2 linked regions of the Homo sapiens genome follow. The protein of the gene in region 2 interacts with the protein of the main gene of each other region in a biochemical or structural test. Each region holds a gene or a part of one and is shown on either strand. Other genes may lie near its edges.

Evidence for each region. The genes of interacting proteins can lie anywhere in the genome.
Region 1: of the proteins of FAM20C (region 2) and PCSK9, one has a biochemical effect on the other in vitro, tested with the Homo sapiens proteins (one study listed by IntAct).

The regions. Positions count from the first base shown.
Region 1 is NC_000001.11:55,034,917-55,042,547, reverse strand, and holds the start of PCSK9 (proprotein convertase subtilisin/kexin type 9 isoform 1 preproprotein), read right to left. Parts: upstream 3,001-7,631; 5' UTR 2,711-3,000; coding exon 2,504-2,710; exon of another isoform or gene 2,145-2,503; intron 582-2,144; coding exon of another isoform or gene 459-581; intron 1-458.
Region 2 is NC_000007.14:251,503-258,583, reverse strand, and holds part of FAM20C (extracellular serine/threonine protein kinase FAM20C precursor), read right to left. Parts: intron 6,453-7,081; exon of another isoform or gene 5,941-6,452; intron 2,736-5,940; coding exon 2,555-2,735; intron 1,931-2,554; coding exon 1,821-1,930; intron 1,580-1,820; coding exon 1,498-1,579; intron 1-1,497. UniProt on the Homo sapiens protein: Golgi serine/threonine protein kinase that phosphorylates secretory pathway proteins within Ser-x-Glu/pSer motifs and plays a key role in biomineralization of bones and teeth.

The DNA.
Region 1 (7,631 bases), on a different chromosome or scaffold from region 2:
GTCCACCCCCTTTACCCAAAGCCTTAGGGCCAAAACGGTTTTGAACCTCAGAACTTGTTTGGATTTTAGAAAGGCAGTAATGGGCAATCAGAGTCTGCTTGGAAGAATCTGGAGCTGCATACTGTAATCTATGCAGCAAAATATATGAATATGCATATTCACACAACTAAATTAAAAATAATCTCATGTCAGTTCACGTCAGGTGCTACCATCAAATAAATCACAAAAAAAACTTTTGGTTTTCGTAACATTTTACATTTCAGACGGTGGATAAAGAACTGTGGAGGCCAGGCGTGGTGGCTCACACCTGTAATTCGAGCACTTTGGGAGGCTGAGGCGGGAGGATCACCTCCTCGGATCCACTGAGGAGGTCAGGAGTTTGCGACTAGCCTGGCCAACGTGGTGAAACCCCTTCTCTACTAAAAATACAAAAATTAGCCGGGCGTGGTGGCAGGTACCTGTAATCCCAGCTTCTTGGGAGGCTGAGGCAGGAGAACCACTTGAACCCGGGAGACAGATGTTGCAGTGAGCTGAGACTGCACCATTGCACTCCAGCCTGGGCAACAAGAGCGAAACTCCATCTCAAAAAAAAAAGAAAAAGAACTGTGGACATGTGCTCCTTATCTTCCACCTCTGGTTTTCCCAGCTCTGTATCTTTGTTCATGGTACCTCCTAATCCTAGAATAAAATTCTCATGACACCATCATCGCTGAACTCCTACTAATGCTTCAAAGACCCATCTGAAAATGCCTTCCGCTAAATAAAAATTGAATGAATTGGGAGAGTACTCTGTGCAGTGGAGTGTCAGTTCTGGAAACCCAGTTCTAATGCACCTGGGGTGACCTCCTCTCTCTGGGCCTCAGTTTCTCATGACTAAAAGAAAAGGATTGGTCTAAAAATTATTTTCTGCTTGCCAAAAAATATTTTCATTCTAAATTCGATTCCCACAAAATAACCATTGAATGAATGAATAAATGAACTTGAGGAGGCTCCTGTTCCAAACTTCCACCAGAGAAGAAACATCCTCAAGGGCTTGGTTCAGGTGGTCATACAGCCTCTGCTTACTCACCTCTCAGGATGGGGTACTCACTATTTCCAGAACAGTTGTTTTGGAGCAGTGGTAACTTGAAATGCCCTTTCTTATCCTGGCCACAACCCCACAACATCCCTCGAGAAAGTCAAAGGCTCAGGGAACAAGGAAGAGGGCTATACTGAGCTGAGTAAGGACTTGCCATCCTGCCACCCAGCACACTCAGACAGAAGCGTGGGCAGGCAGCTGTGAGTGGCAGAATTTTCCCCTCTGCCCCAGGAGCTGTGGTTTGGAGCAAAGACAATGTCACCAACAGGTCACACTGCAGACAGGGACAAAACTGCAAGTGATCCCCCCGGGGCTTGCATTGTAAGTTCACTCATGGTCAACAGAACTTTCCCTTCATCTCCCCATCTGCTGCCACTGAGCCGTAGGGACGATTGTCACCTCCCTTTTAAAGATTAGGCAATGGAGGCTCAAGGATAAGTGACTTGTCAAGCACCACAGCTAGTGAGAGGAAGCCAAGATTCAACCCCACATCTGACTCCAAGCTGGGGGACACAGAACCTCAGCCAAGTCCTGGGCTGGTAATACTTAGAAAAAGCTAGTGGTCTCGCCCCGGGAAGAAGCTTCCCACAGCCTGAGGGCCAGAAGCTGGCAGAGTTGTTGAGCAAACTCGCCCCGCACACGGTCGGCAGACAGCCAGGTGGGCTGAGGCGCCGGGCTCAGCTCCGGGGTCCCAGTACCAGGCGCACCACCTCCGGCTCCAGAGCACCAAGGGCCCTTCCCTGCCTGAGTCCTAAAGGACGCCAATGGGCCTCGAGAATACCTCCGCCCCTTCTCCCCTGCCCCTTCAGCTGGTTCTTTTCTTCGGCTGAAACAGATGGAATACTAGAGCATGAGTTCTGTGTCATAAAGAAATTGCCTCGTGCTCCCAGCATCTGCCGTCCTTCCCACCCCGCCCCTGTCTCGGGTAGGGCCTTCTCTCCAGGCCCTCCACCCTCCGCTGCCCATGTTTTCCAAACCAAATCGGAACCCACTATAATGGCAAGCCCGCTTTCTCTGTGCCTGGTGCAGTTCCCAGTACGTTCCAGGCATTCACTCCTTCACCCACCTGTGCCGCGGCGAGGCAGAAACTGGGAAATCTGGGCAGGATATCCTGGCAGTGCTCTGCTCGCCCTTCCTCGGCCTCCGGGTCTCCCAACCCCGCGAACCTTCCCACTGAATAGCGCAGCCGCACGCCCCAGCAAGTCCCCAAAGAGCCGGCCGTCCCCGCTCTCCACCGTGCTCCCCACTACCCGTCCTCCCCCGCCGCCTTGCCTGCAGTCCCCAAGATCGTGCCAAGCGAAGAGCCCTCGGCGACCTGCACTCCACTTCCTCTCTTACATGGGGGGAAACTGAGGCCCGAGAGGAAACAGCACCGCACCGTCCCGGCTGCGGGTTCGCCCCGGCCTCCCATCCCTACACCCGCACCTTGGCGCAGCGGTGGAAGGTGGCTGTGGTTCCGTGCTCGGGTGCTTCGGCCAGGCCGTCCTCCTCGGAACGCAAGGCTAGCACCAGCTCCTCGTAGTCGCCGTCCTCGTCCTCCTGCGCACGGGCGCCCGCGGGACCCAGGAGCAGCAGCAGCAGCAGCAGCAGTGGCAGCGGCCACCAGGACCGCCTGGAGCTGACGGTGCCCATGAGGGCCAGGGGAGAGGTTGCTGTCCTGGCGAGGAGACCTAGAGGCCGTGCGCGGTCCACGCCGGCGGCGCCTTGAGCCTTGCGGTGGGGAGGACTGTGCAGGAGCTGAAGTTCAGGAGCAGGGCGCGTGAAGGGGCGCGCGGAATCCTGGCTGGGAGCTGGGAGCCGCTGCTGCAACGACGCGTCCCGGCCCGCCCGAGCCAGTCTCACTGCCTGGCTCACTCCTCCAGGCTCAGACCCTGAACTGAACGGCGGCGCCCGCCTGCAACCATGAGCGCCTCGACGTCGCTGCGGAAACCTTCTAGGGTGTGGGTGCTTGACGCCTGGGGCGCGCAGATCACGCCACCAGAGCCCCATCGGACGATCCTATCTGATTAAACATTAACGGAACCCCCGGACTGGAGGATCAGGTTTCGGCCTCGCCCTCCCCAAACAGCGTCAGATTACGCGCAGAGGGAAGAAAAAACTCCCAAATCCTAACTGGGCTGGAAGGCAGGCCGGCGCCCTAGGGGCTCCTCCTCTCCCGCCTCTCACCCTGCGTGGGATGCCAGACTCCAAGTTCTGCCGGGCCCACCTTTTCAGTGTTTCCTGGGTCCACCTTGTCTCCTGCTGACCAGTGAGACTTCTGAATCAATCCTACTGTGGACTCCTCGCTGCCCACCGAATTCTTTCCACTGGCCTTAACCTGGCAGCCTTCTAAACTTAGCCTGGACCCCCTCCGGCCTCTGCCCTTTATGCACCCTGCACACTGACCTTACCAACTAGCTGCTCCTTGAAGAGATTGCTTGCTTTTGATGTCCAGCCTACATGCATTTCAAGGGATTTATACTACAAAGATTCAGGTTTTAAGTTTGCAAAGACGTCATATAGGTACATTCAGAATTCTATGGTAGGCACAAGCTCAGCTTTCCAGAAGATTCAATTTGCAAAGATTCCTTTTACACACCATGTTCAAGAAATCAACTGGACAAGCATCCAGTAAACACCTATTGTGTACCAGGCAGGAGGATGAAAAGGGGAAAGAGAGCTCCTGGCCTCAGATTGTACATGTGGCATGACATGAGGCTTGCTCTTTCTGGAAGGGCTGTCGATACTGGGAAGAAACAAAGGCGAATTTATGATCCTCCCTTGCAGATGCACAGCAGATTCCGAGTGAAATGGCCTGCTCTGAATCTAGGTGCTGGAGTCCAAAGTTGATGCTCTTTCCACTTTGTTTGCAAAGACCTCACTCCAGAGAGCCAGTGCACAAAGACAGTGCAACCAGTGGGTTGACAGTGACTCCATGAGGTAAGGTCAGAGTTATCCCCATCGAGCCCGCCATCGCAGCACAGAGTAGGAGCTCATGGTTTGCTGACAGAGGTGGCAGAGGTGGTTCTCCTTCCTGTTGCCTGTAATTGGAATTGTATTTGCAATGTGCTTTTGGCAGCTTCCTCATCAAAGGCCTCCCCTGGAGCAAGAATAGATGGGAGCTAACTTTCCCTGCTGCTCCCCTTTGGGACCTTGGCCTCTCACCTACCGGGGTCGTTACCGTGCACCCAGAGAATGATGAAGCCTGTGCACAGAGGGACATGGATGTCCCCAGGCCCAGGAAGGGGGCTGCTGTCCAGCATGCAGTGGGTGTGTTCTGAGGGAGGTGGGGGAGGAAGGAAGCACCCTGGGCTCTGCGACAGATGGAACCAGAGGGGCAGTCACTTCTCATCCCATATCCTCCACTGCACTCTTATGAGGGGCAGCCCCAGCTGGGCCTCCTGCCACTTGGCAGGGCTTTCATCCCTCACCAATTACCCCTCCCATAAGTTGCCCAAAGGAATTGTGTCACCTTCTCCCTCTTCTCAAATGGGTTCCCCCACACCCTGGCCAGCAAATAAGCAGCCAGCTCCCCTGAGAGGTACCAGCAATCAGGGTAAGTCAGAAGCCTCTTCTGGGGCCTCCCCTCCACCACAAGTGCTTTCTGGGTCAACACCCATCCTTTTCCCCTCCTGCCTTCCTCCTTCAGGGCAGAGGGGACCATCCTCTTATACTCAGCTGACACTCCCCTGCCCCAATCTGGCCTCCGCAGGGATCACCTACCTCCACTATCTCCTCTCCTCCTCTTATCCCTAAATGCCTCTTCCTGAGTTATTCTTTCCCTTCACCCCACAAGCATCCTCAAGGCTTCCTCCCTCTAAAAATGCCACTTTTACTGTCCCTCAAAATGCTTTTCTAGCCATTGCCTTCCCCTCATAGACTGAATGAGTAGATAGAACTCACTTTTATGCTCCCTGGCTACCTTCTCCAACCTCAGAAACTTGGAGTCTGCAGCCACCATTGCTGTGAGTGTACATTTCAACATTTTGAACGGGCATACTCTTTTTTGCAAGGGAGGGGGCATCTTTTTGTGTGAATGTTCAATTTTTTTAAATTTACATGAAAATGTTTTTTTTAAAACGTGAATAGTTTGAAAGGATATACAGTGAAAAGTTCATCTTCCTCCCACTCCTGAACCACCACCTTCTGAGGGAAAACCACTGTTACCCACGGTAGTGGGTTGAATCGTGTCCCCCAAAAAGATAAGTCTAAGACTAACCCCTGGTACTTTTGAATGTGACCTTATTTGGAAATGAGATCTTTGCAGATGTAATTGACCTAAGGATCTCATGAGGAGATTATCCTGGGTTTAGGATGGTCCCTAAATCCAATGACTGATATCAGAAGAGAAAGGGGAGAGATACTTGAGACACAGAAACACCTATGTAACAATGGAGGCGCCGATTAGAGCTGTGCCGACATAAGCCAAGGAATGCCAGGAGCCCCCAAAGGAGCTGGAAGAAGCAAGGAATGTTCCTCCCCTAGAGCTTTGGGAGAGGGCACCACCCTGCAACCCTTCATTCCATACTTCTGGCTTCCATAACTGCAAGAGAATACGTTTTTGTTATTTGAAGCCAGCAAATTTGTAGAAACTTGTTATAACAGCCCCAGGAAAGTAATATACCTATTTATTGGGTATCTTTTCGGAGATAGTCTACTTTTATAAAACTACTTGGATGGGCTCTTTAACCCACTTTTTAAAATTGTAAAAATAGTTTATGATTTACTTTTAACTTTTTATTTATATTGGTGGGGTGGAGAGGGACAACTTAATCTGACGTCTTAACCTAGCCCTAATCTCGGAATAAAAACCACACTGGTACACATACATCTACTGCCTTATTTTTCTGGTTGCAGATTATTTCATTCTATGTATGTTTCACAATGTCTTTAGCCAATTTCCTATTGGTTGGTGTTTCCGTTGGTTGTTTCTGTCTTTTGCTATTGCAATCCAAGTTGCCATGTCTGTCCTTATCCATAGCTGTTTGCACATGTGAGAGTATCTGTTTCATAAATTCCTGGAAGTGGAATTTCGAGATAAAGGGCACATGAATGCTCTATATTGATGATGTCTTCCCACGAGCAGTGCTGGAGGAATCCATCAGAATAGGCTAGGTTCTGCTTCCAGCACATGCACGCCCCAAATCTCAGGGGCTTGAAATGTCAAAGGTTTATTTCTGTCTCACCTCACATGTCCATCAAGGACTTTGCTTCACTACTTCATTACCCTCACCCCAGAACCAGACTGATAAAGCAACCATCATTCAGAACATTGCTGAACACTGAGGCTGACGGAAAGCAAAGAGGTGACTCCATGCAGCTTCCACACAAAAGTGACCCACAACACTTCCGTTCACATTTCCTTCTCCTAAGCGAGACACATGACCACACCTAAGGTCAAATGTAGGAAACTGCAATCACACCAAGTGCCCAGAAGGAGGAGAAAGGGTATATTTGTGAATACCACTGGCAACTACCGCTCATGGTCACACCCAGGCCAACACAGAGTTGCCAAATATTTTGACCTTTCCTTAAGTTAAACAATTATCTACATTTGTTTGTCTTTGAACTGTCTCTTCATTTTTTCATTTTGGCTGTGGAGCTTTTGTTTGATGATTTGTAATAGCTTTTTATGTATAATACCAAAATTAGCCTGCTGTCTCTTATGTATGTTGCAAATCTATTTTCCAGTTTGTTGATTGATTTTTGACTTTATTGTATTTTTTTCCATAGAAAATTTTAATTTTCATGGAGTCAAACTTATCAGCCTTTTATTTCATGACTTCTTGATTTTGTACTGTGCTTAGAAAGGCCTCCTCCTTATCAAGATCATATAAAAATTGTCCTCCTTTTTTAAATCTTTTTTTAATATCTTGGCTTCCACTGGGATTTACTTTTGTATAAGGAGTGAGGTTATTTTTCTCCAGAAGGCTAGCCTATTGTTCCAATACCGTTTATTCCGTAACTCATTTTTTCTCCCTGATTAGAAATGACGTCTTAGTAACAAAACTCCCTTGCGACTCTACATCTAATTCTGGCTGTTTTTGTACCTTTAATATCTCTAGTCAGTAGCAAACTGTGAAAATGTGCTATATACTGACCTAGCTATTTGATTTCTTAGGAATTTATCCTAAGGAAATAATTAGGCAAGTGGACAAAGAGGTACTAATGATATAGAAATCATTGTGCAAACGGAGAGCAACTAAAGTGTGTGGAGGCCCTAATATAATCTAGCAAGGACCCCAGCGATGTACACCCACCATTCAAGGATGAGGCTGGAGCTGGCCCAATGGCCCAGGATGGACAAAGGGTCCAGGACAGCAGCACGCTTTTCCGTAAGAAGCTCTGCTGTAAAATGGGTGTGCTCAGCTCTTAAAACAGCTTCTGACTCAGTAAAGACTGAACAGGGTATAGGAAGCCCAGACATGTGGTGGGGTGGGAAGTTTGCATCTGGTCCCGCTGCTGGGAGCCACAGGGAGCTGTGGCCATGGCTCCTCAGTGCCCTTCTGGCTGCGCTGCCTCCTGCCTCTTGGGGTGGTATGAGTCCTGGCTCCGACTGCAACATGTTGATTCA
Region 2 (7,081 bases):
CTGGGAGCTGGGCCATGGGTCCACCTGCCTGTACCCGACACCCCAGGCAGTGGGTCCACCCAGCCCATCTCCAGCACCCCGGGCAGTGGGTCCATCCCACCCATCTCCAGCACCCCAGGCAGTGGGTCCATCCCACCCATCTCCAGCACCCCAGGCAGTGGGTCCACCCCACCCATCTCCAGCATCCCGGGCAGTGGGTCCACCCTGCCCATCTCCAGCACCTCAGGCAGTGGGTCCACCCTGCCCATCTCCAGCACCCCGGGCAGTGGGTCCATCCCACCCATCTCCAGCACCCCAGGCAGTGGGTCCACCCTGCCTATCTCCAGCACCTCAGGCAGTGGGTCCACCCCACCCATCTCCAGCACCCCAGTCAGTGGGTCCACCCTGCCTATCTCCAGCACCTCAGGCAGTGGGTCCACCCTGCCTATCTCCAGCACCCCAGTCAGTGGGTCCACCCCGCCTATCTCCAACACCCCGGGCAGTGGGTCCACCCAGCCCCATCTCCAGCACCCCAGGCAGTGGGTCCACACTGCCTATCTCCAGCACCCGGGCAGTGGGTCCACCCAGCCCCATCTCCAGCACCCCAGGCAGTGGGTCCACACTGCCTATCTCCAGCACCTCAGGCAGTGGGTCCACCCCGGGCATCTCCAGCACCCCAGGCAGTGTGTCCACCCAGCCCATCTCCAGCATCCTGGGCAGTGGGTCCACCCAGCCCCATCTCCAGCACCCCAGGCAGTGGGTCCACCCTGCCCATCTCCAGCACCCCGGGCAGTGGGTCCACCCAGCCCATCTCCAGCACCCCGGGCAGTGGGTCCACCCTGCCCATCTCCAGCACCCCAGGCAGTGGGTCCACCCCGCCTGTCCCCAGCCCTGTATGTGGGGTCCTGGCCTCTGGCCTGGGGAAGGGTCCTGGGCAGCCGAGTTGAGATGGCTCCAGGGAGCGTCAGCCCACAGTTTAGCTATTGAAGTGCCCAAAGTCCATCTCTCTGAGGCCTCCGAGCCTGGGAATGGACGTCCTCCTGCCCGAGTTACTCGCCTCCATGCTTTGCTTATTAGGGGTCACCCTCCCTGGTAACCAGGGTCTCACAGCGCCGCCCAAGACCCCCCGTGGCAGGCCAGCAGCGGCCGCAGAGGCCGCCTATCCCCCGCTGGCTGGCTCCAGGTACCGCGTGCAGGCAGAGGCCCATCTATTCTGCACGGTCCTGCTCTTCCTACCAGCAGCCTCTCCTGGCCTCCGTTTCCCAGGTAACACCAGCTCTGCCGGGACTTGGTCTGCAGCATTCCTGTGCCTCGGAGGTCCCACTCCCGGGGCGGCCCTCCCTCCTGGTTGGGGCCTGGGGCCGCCCTCTGCATCTGGCTCTGAGATGGGCCTTTGCGACATTCCCATCCCTCCACTGGAGGGTCTGCTCCCCCCGTCCCCAGGGTCTCAGGTGGGCTGCAGGTAGCTGGGAGGTGGCCGGCCCTTCCCTGGGTGTGCAGGGGCGAGGACAGGCTCACCCTCTTCCATTGTCTAAGTGGATGATGAACGTTTCATTCCCAAACTTCTCAAAAGTCTCGTAGTGGTGACGGTCCATGTTTCCTGCGGAGAGAGGCAGAAAGTGTCACAGCTCGTGGGGAGCCGGGCCACGTAGCTCAGAGGCCTCTGTGCTCTGCAGAGCGGCGTCTCCTCCTGCCAGCGTGACCTCTAAGCAATCTGGCCCCTTCACAGGCCACAGGACCGCAGCCGGGCCGTGCCACGGAGTGTGCCCTGCAGAGCCCTGCGTGCATCCGCTCCACGCAAGGCGAGTGACACGGGGACCCCGTGCCCCTGCGGGACGTACCCATGAGGAAGTCGAAGATCGTCATGTCCATGACGTCCAGGATGCGGTGGCTGCTGTCGTAGGGCGGTGTCTGCTTCACCTCCTCGCAGTAGTCAGGGTCCACCTCCCACCTGCGGGGAGCCAGCGTGAGACGGGGGGCCCAGGCCAGATTCTGGGGAGCCCGGCGCGTGCCATGAGGAGCAGAAGAGAAACACTGCGGCAGGGACCTTGGCGTCTGCAGATGGACCCGCCCGGGCTGCGGCGCTGAGGCTGCATTAGCGGGAGCACGGGTGTGGGAGGGGACGGAGCCGCTCTGCCCTGCCTCGGGGTGACCCCACCTGGAGCTGCCTTCACCTCTGGGCCCCGTGTTTTTTGCAGAGTCTCTGTGGGGAAACAGGACCTGGACTACACACTCACGAGGACAACGTGGGGCGGAAAGAACAGGGGCCGTTTCTCCCGCAGGAGTGAGGAGAGGGACGGGGCGAGAGCAGAGCTCAAACGCTGAGAGGCCCCGATTCGAGGGACCTGGTGGGCAGGCCGGCCCGGGTCAGGGAAGCACATGGAAATACTGGAGTAAGGACGCCCTCTGCCACCGTCTCATCAGGAAGCGGTCATCTCACACAGGCCAGCATCGCACAGCAGGCTCTGCACCCATCTCTGCCACCCCCGTGGGCGCCGACCCTCCCATGCCCGCCCAGGCCCAGCTCCCTCTGCCGTAGGGTGGCCGGACGCCAGCCCCCCGGCCCCGCACTCACTCGGCCTTCTTGCGCTTGTGGTAGGAACGCCGCCAAGGGTTCCGCCAGGTCTTCCTCTTGGCCAGGGACAGGTCGGGCAGGAAGGCCGCCAGCGAGCCCTCGATCTGGTCTGGCTTCCCGCACAGGGCGTGCTCCGTGGAGCAGTAGTAGGAACACTCGCCGTAGAAGCAGATGTTGTTGGCTGGGGAGGGACAGGCTGCGGGTTACCAGGGCCGCACAGGGCTGCGTCCTCACCTGTGGTCTCACGGCCCCCAAGGCCGGGCCGGGCTCTGCCTGGTGCTTCTCATGGGCAGGACTCACCCACAGTTCCCCATCAATCCCAGCAAACACCTCCACCCCACGGTACAGAAAAATGAACCCACAGAGCTGACGTCCCGAGGCCACACAGCTCCCCAGAGGCAGAGCCCGGCCTGAACCCTCGAAAATCAGGGGCTGGTCTATGGAAACCCTAGGGCCAACATTTAGTCTTTTAAAAAATGCATTCATATTGTCAAGAAAGTGAAGATACAATCCACAGAATGGTAGAAAACGTTTGCAAACCGCACATCTGAGGATCTAGCATTTAGAGTGTATGAAGAACTCTCATCACTCAATCACAAAAAGACAAAAAAAACTAATAAATGGGCAGAGGGCTTGAACAGCTGATTCTCCAAAGACGACCCTGATGGCCGACAAGCATGAGAAGAGACGGGCGCCATCGTGAGTCACCGGGGAGATGCAAATCAAAGCCACGGTGAGGCACCATCTCCTGTCTGCTGGGATGGCTTCCATCAAAAGAGCAGCTGCCGGCTGGGACGGGGGAACCGCCACCTCTGTGCGCTGCTGGCGGGGGGTGCACACGGCACAGCCACGGCGGAAACGGTCTGCAGCCCCCAACTGATTAAACACAGTGTTTCCACGTGACCCAGGAACTCCCCTCCCATGTAAACCCCTAAGAGAAGAGAAAACATTTCTATACAAAAACTCAGACACGAATGCTCACAGCAGCACCGCTCACCACAGCCGAAAAAGAGAGAATCCACCCAAATGTCCATCAAGAGAGGAGTGGACACGCCAGGTGAACATGGTCCATCCGTGCGATGACACGAAACGAAATGAAACAAGAAGAGGAATGAAGCCCTCACTGAACCCGAGAACCCTGTGCTCCGCGAAGGAGGCCAGACAGAGGAGGCCACACGTCGTATGACCCTCTTAATATGAAACGCCCAGAACAGGCAAATCCAGATAGACTGGGGGTGGGACGCTGCTCGTCGAGGGCTGCGGGGTGAGGAACGGTGACCGCCTGCTCATGGTACGGGGCTCCTTTTTGGGGTCAGCAGGACATTCTGGATTTAGACAGTGGTGATGGTTGCACACCATTGTGGATATACTAAAAACCACGGAACTGTACGCTTTTAAATGGTAAATTTTGTGGTACATGAATTATACCTTAATAAAGAAAGAATAATCAGAAAAATGCAAGCGCTGTCCAGGCCCGCTAGCAGTGCGGGTTCACTGCTCTGATGCTGGAGGCCCGGCCGACGGCGCTATTCCTGTATTTATTTGCTGATTAAATCTAGTTTTTCTTGCTTTATTTGTTTGTGGAGAAACTCTGGAAAGCCTGGGGCTGTAGAACTGGTGAGAACGTGGTTTTGTTGGGGCCGGAGCCCCGAACCTCACTCACAGCTCCCCCAGTCCCAGCATTCCTATGCAGCCAGGCTGAGTGATTCCAGGGGTCTCTCCTGGCTGCAGGGCAGGCTCCCCGTGGGATCAGAAGGCAGGTTCGGCAGGGCGCTTCCCAGCGGAGTGAACAGGAGGGTGGCCGGTCCCGGCTGCCCTTTCTTAGCTGAACAAGCTGAGGTTCGGAGAGGAAACGGGGTGGGTGCCAGGCCGACCTGGCCCCCACCACACCCCACGCACCCGGCAGGTCCCGGCTGGTCTGGTTCCAACGCCCCGATCACCTGCCTGCCCCCTCCTTCCCGCGCCCCCTCACCCCACTGCCAACGCTGGGTCATTATTGTAAGAACGAACGATCAAGGAAAGACCAGCTGCAATCCTGTCTCGTGCTGATACAGATTAGTCGGCAGCCCACAGTCGGACGAGGCAGCCCCCACCGGGGCAGGAGCTCCATTTCAGGAGGAAAATCTTCATCTGAGCGCTCATTGGCTGGAGGCTTAAAATTCGTCTGCTGTTAACAGCCTCCCGTCCTCGCCTAAGCCGGTTTCAGATGGTATCGTGTTAAAAGAGAAAGGCATTTCTCGGGCCCACAGCCATTTCTCTTTGCAGATCCAAATCGGGTATTAAAGGGGCCTCCCGGGCGGGGTTAGGAGGGCTTGGAGCTGTGTGACCTCAGGCAAGTGCCTCCCTGCTCTGTGCCCAGCCCCTCGCCCGGGAAGCGGGGGTCCCAGCAACGCCGGCATCACGGGCTGGGAATTACACAAAGAAGCCACGGGAGGCAGCTGTCCAGGTAACGAAGGCTGCCCTGCACTTGGAGTGGGGGCTTTCTGGGAGGAAGGAGCGTGAGTCCTTTTCCATTTTAGTAATAATAAAAGACACAAACAGCAAGGAGAAAGCCAGGGTAGCGGACAAACCCAGGAGAGATCCTGCCTCCTCCAGTCACCAGGAAATGGCATCACGGTTGGCCTCCCGGAGAGCGCAGACAGGCAAGAGTGTGGCTCCTGGCAAGGACGAAGATGGCTCCTTCACCCTGCGGCTCAAGCGTCTCCCACCATTCCTTTCGCTGACTGTGTCGGGGCTGACCCAGCAGGAGGAGCGTTTTGCAAGGCGGACGTCTGCCATCTGCCACCTTGGACAGCTGTGCCCTGGACAGCTGCGGGCCCGGCGGACACTGTTACTTAGGGCAGCGGCTCTGGGTGCCCGAACTGGGTCCATCGCTGGAAACGTGTCTCCTGCAACCTGCATTTAAGCTGGACGCAGCACTGGAGAGAGTCCTGAGGACCGCCCTGCCCAGCCCAGGCCACCGTGGCAGGAAAAAAGGCGAAGCGGATGATGGCAAAGCCCTTCTGTCCAGGCTGTGTCGGGCTGAGTGGCTTCCGGAGCTGCTGAGGACCTGGGCCTGGTCCTGGGGGCGCTCACCTTGCAGAAATGCAAAGCTGTGCACGGATGACCTGTGCACCTCTGGGACGTTTGCAACGTGCAGACGGTAACTTACGTGAGAAGTAGGGGAGTGTGTTCTGTGAGCGTTTGGGGCTTAGAAGATGTGGGCTCTGACTGCGGCCCGGCCCCTACACAGCTGTGCGGTGCTGGGGTCCTAATTGCCCTCTCTGAACCTGAGCTCCACAATCCCTACGTGGGGCAGGGGGCTGCCTGGGGCTCAGCCTCCTGCTTCTCCCTCCCAGAGCCCACCTTCCCCGAGCACTGGCCTTGGCCACCTCTCGCCCCCTCACCTTGTTCCTGGCTGATGGGATTTTCCCTTTTCTGATTGACCCCACGGGAGGGTCACTCAGGCCACGGGAGGCCGAGGGGGTGTCTGCAGTGGGCTCAGCCCTCCAATGTGCTCTGGGCTCCAGCAGGGCTTCCGAGACCACCTGGCATCCGTGGTTGGGAGGCCGAGGGGGTGTCTGCAGTGGGCTCAGCCCTCCAATGTGCTCTGGGCTCCAGCAGGGCCTCCGAGATGACCTGGCATCCTTGGTCGGAAGGCCGAGGGGGTGTCTACAGTGGGCTCAGCCCTCTGATGTGCCCTCGGCTCTGGCAGGGCCTCCGAGATGACCTGGCATCCTTGGTCGGGAGGCCGAGGGGGTGTCTACAGTGGGCTCAGCCCTCTGATGTGCCCTCGGCTCCGGCAGGGCCTCCGAGATGACCTGGCATCCTTGGTCGGGAGGCCGAGGGGGTGTCTACAGTGGGCTCAGCCCTCTGATGTGCCCTTGGCTCCGGCAGGGCCTCTGAGGTCACCTGGCATCTGTGGTTGGGAGACACATGCAAAGCAAAGTGGAGCAAACGAATCTGAACAGATTTTGTTCTCTAGGAGAGGAATCCGGGCTCCTGGGCCCCTGCTGCTTGAGAGAAAGTCAAATGCTCACAGAGGCTTCTGGAAGAAATCGGACTGACAGGGCAGCGCGGCTGGAGTGGCAGCAGTGGGGTTCCAGGGGCTGCGTTCAGGGGCGCCTGACAATGCTGGGCCTGGCTGCTCTGGGAGATTCAAGGACTCGTCTGTCCAGGCAGGGACATGGAACTGTTGGGGCCTCTGGTGGCCGAGGAAGTCTTGGATTTCAGGGGAGAAACTTGCGCTGCCCTGGAAAACGCAACTAATATCCAGAACCAGGAGTGGCCAGGGAAGCTGCTGGAGCGCTTAATAAAGTGCTGGCTCCAGGGAGACGTGAGAAGGGATTCCAGCAACGGCACCAAAGGTGGTCGATGGCCGCCTTGCAGCACAGAGCTCAGGGGCACTCCGGTGACCACCGTCCCTGGCCTGCTGAGGACCTGGGGATTCCAAGTGTCAGCCAACATGGGACATAGAGGTGACTTAATTCACCTGCTTGGACTAATAATCAACTCAGTCTTTTTTTTTTTTGAGACGGGGTCTCACTC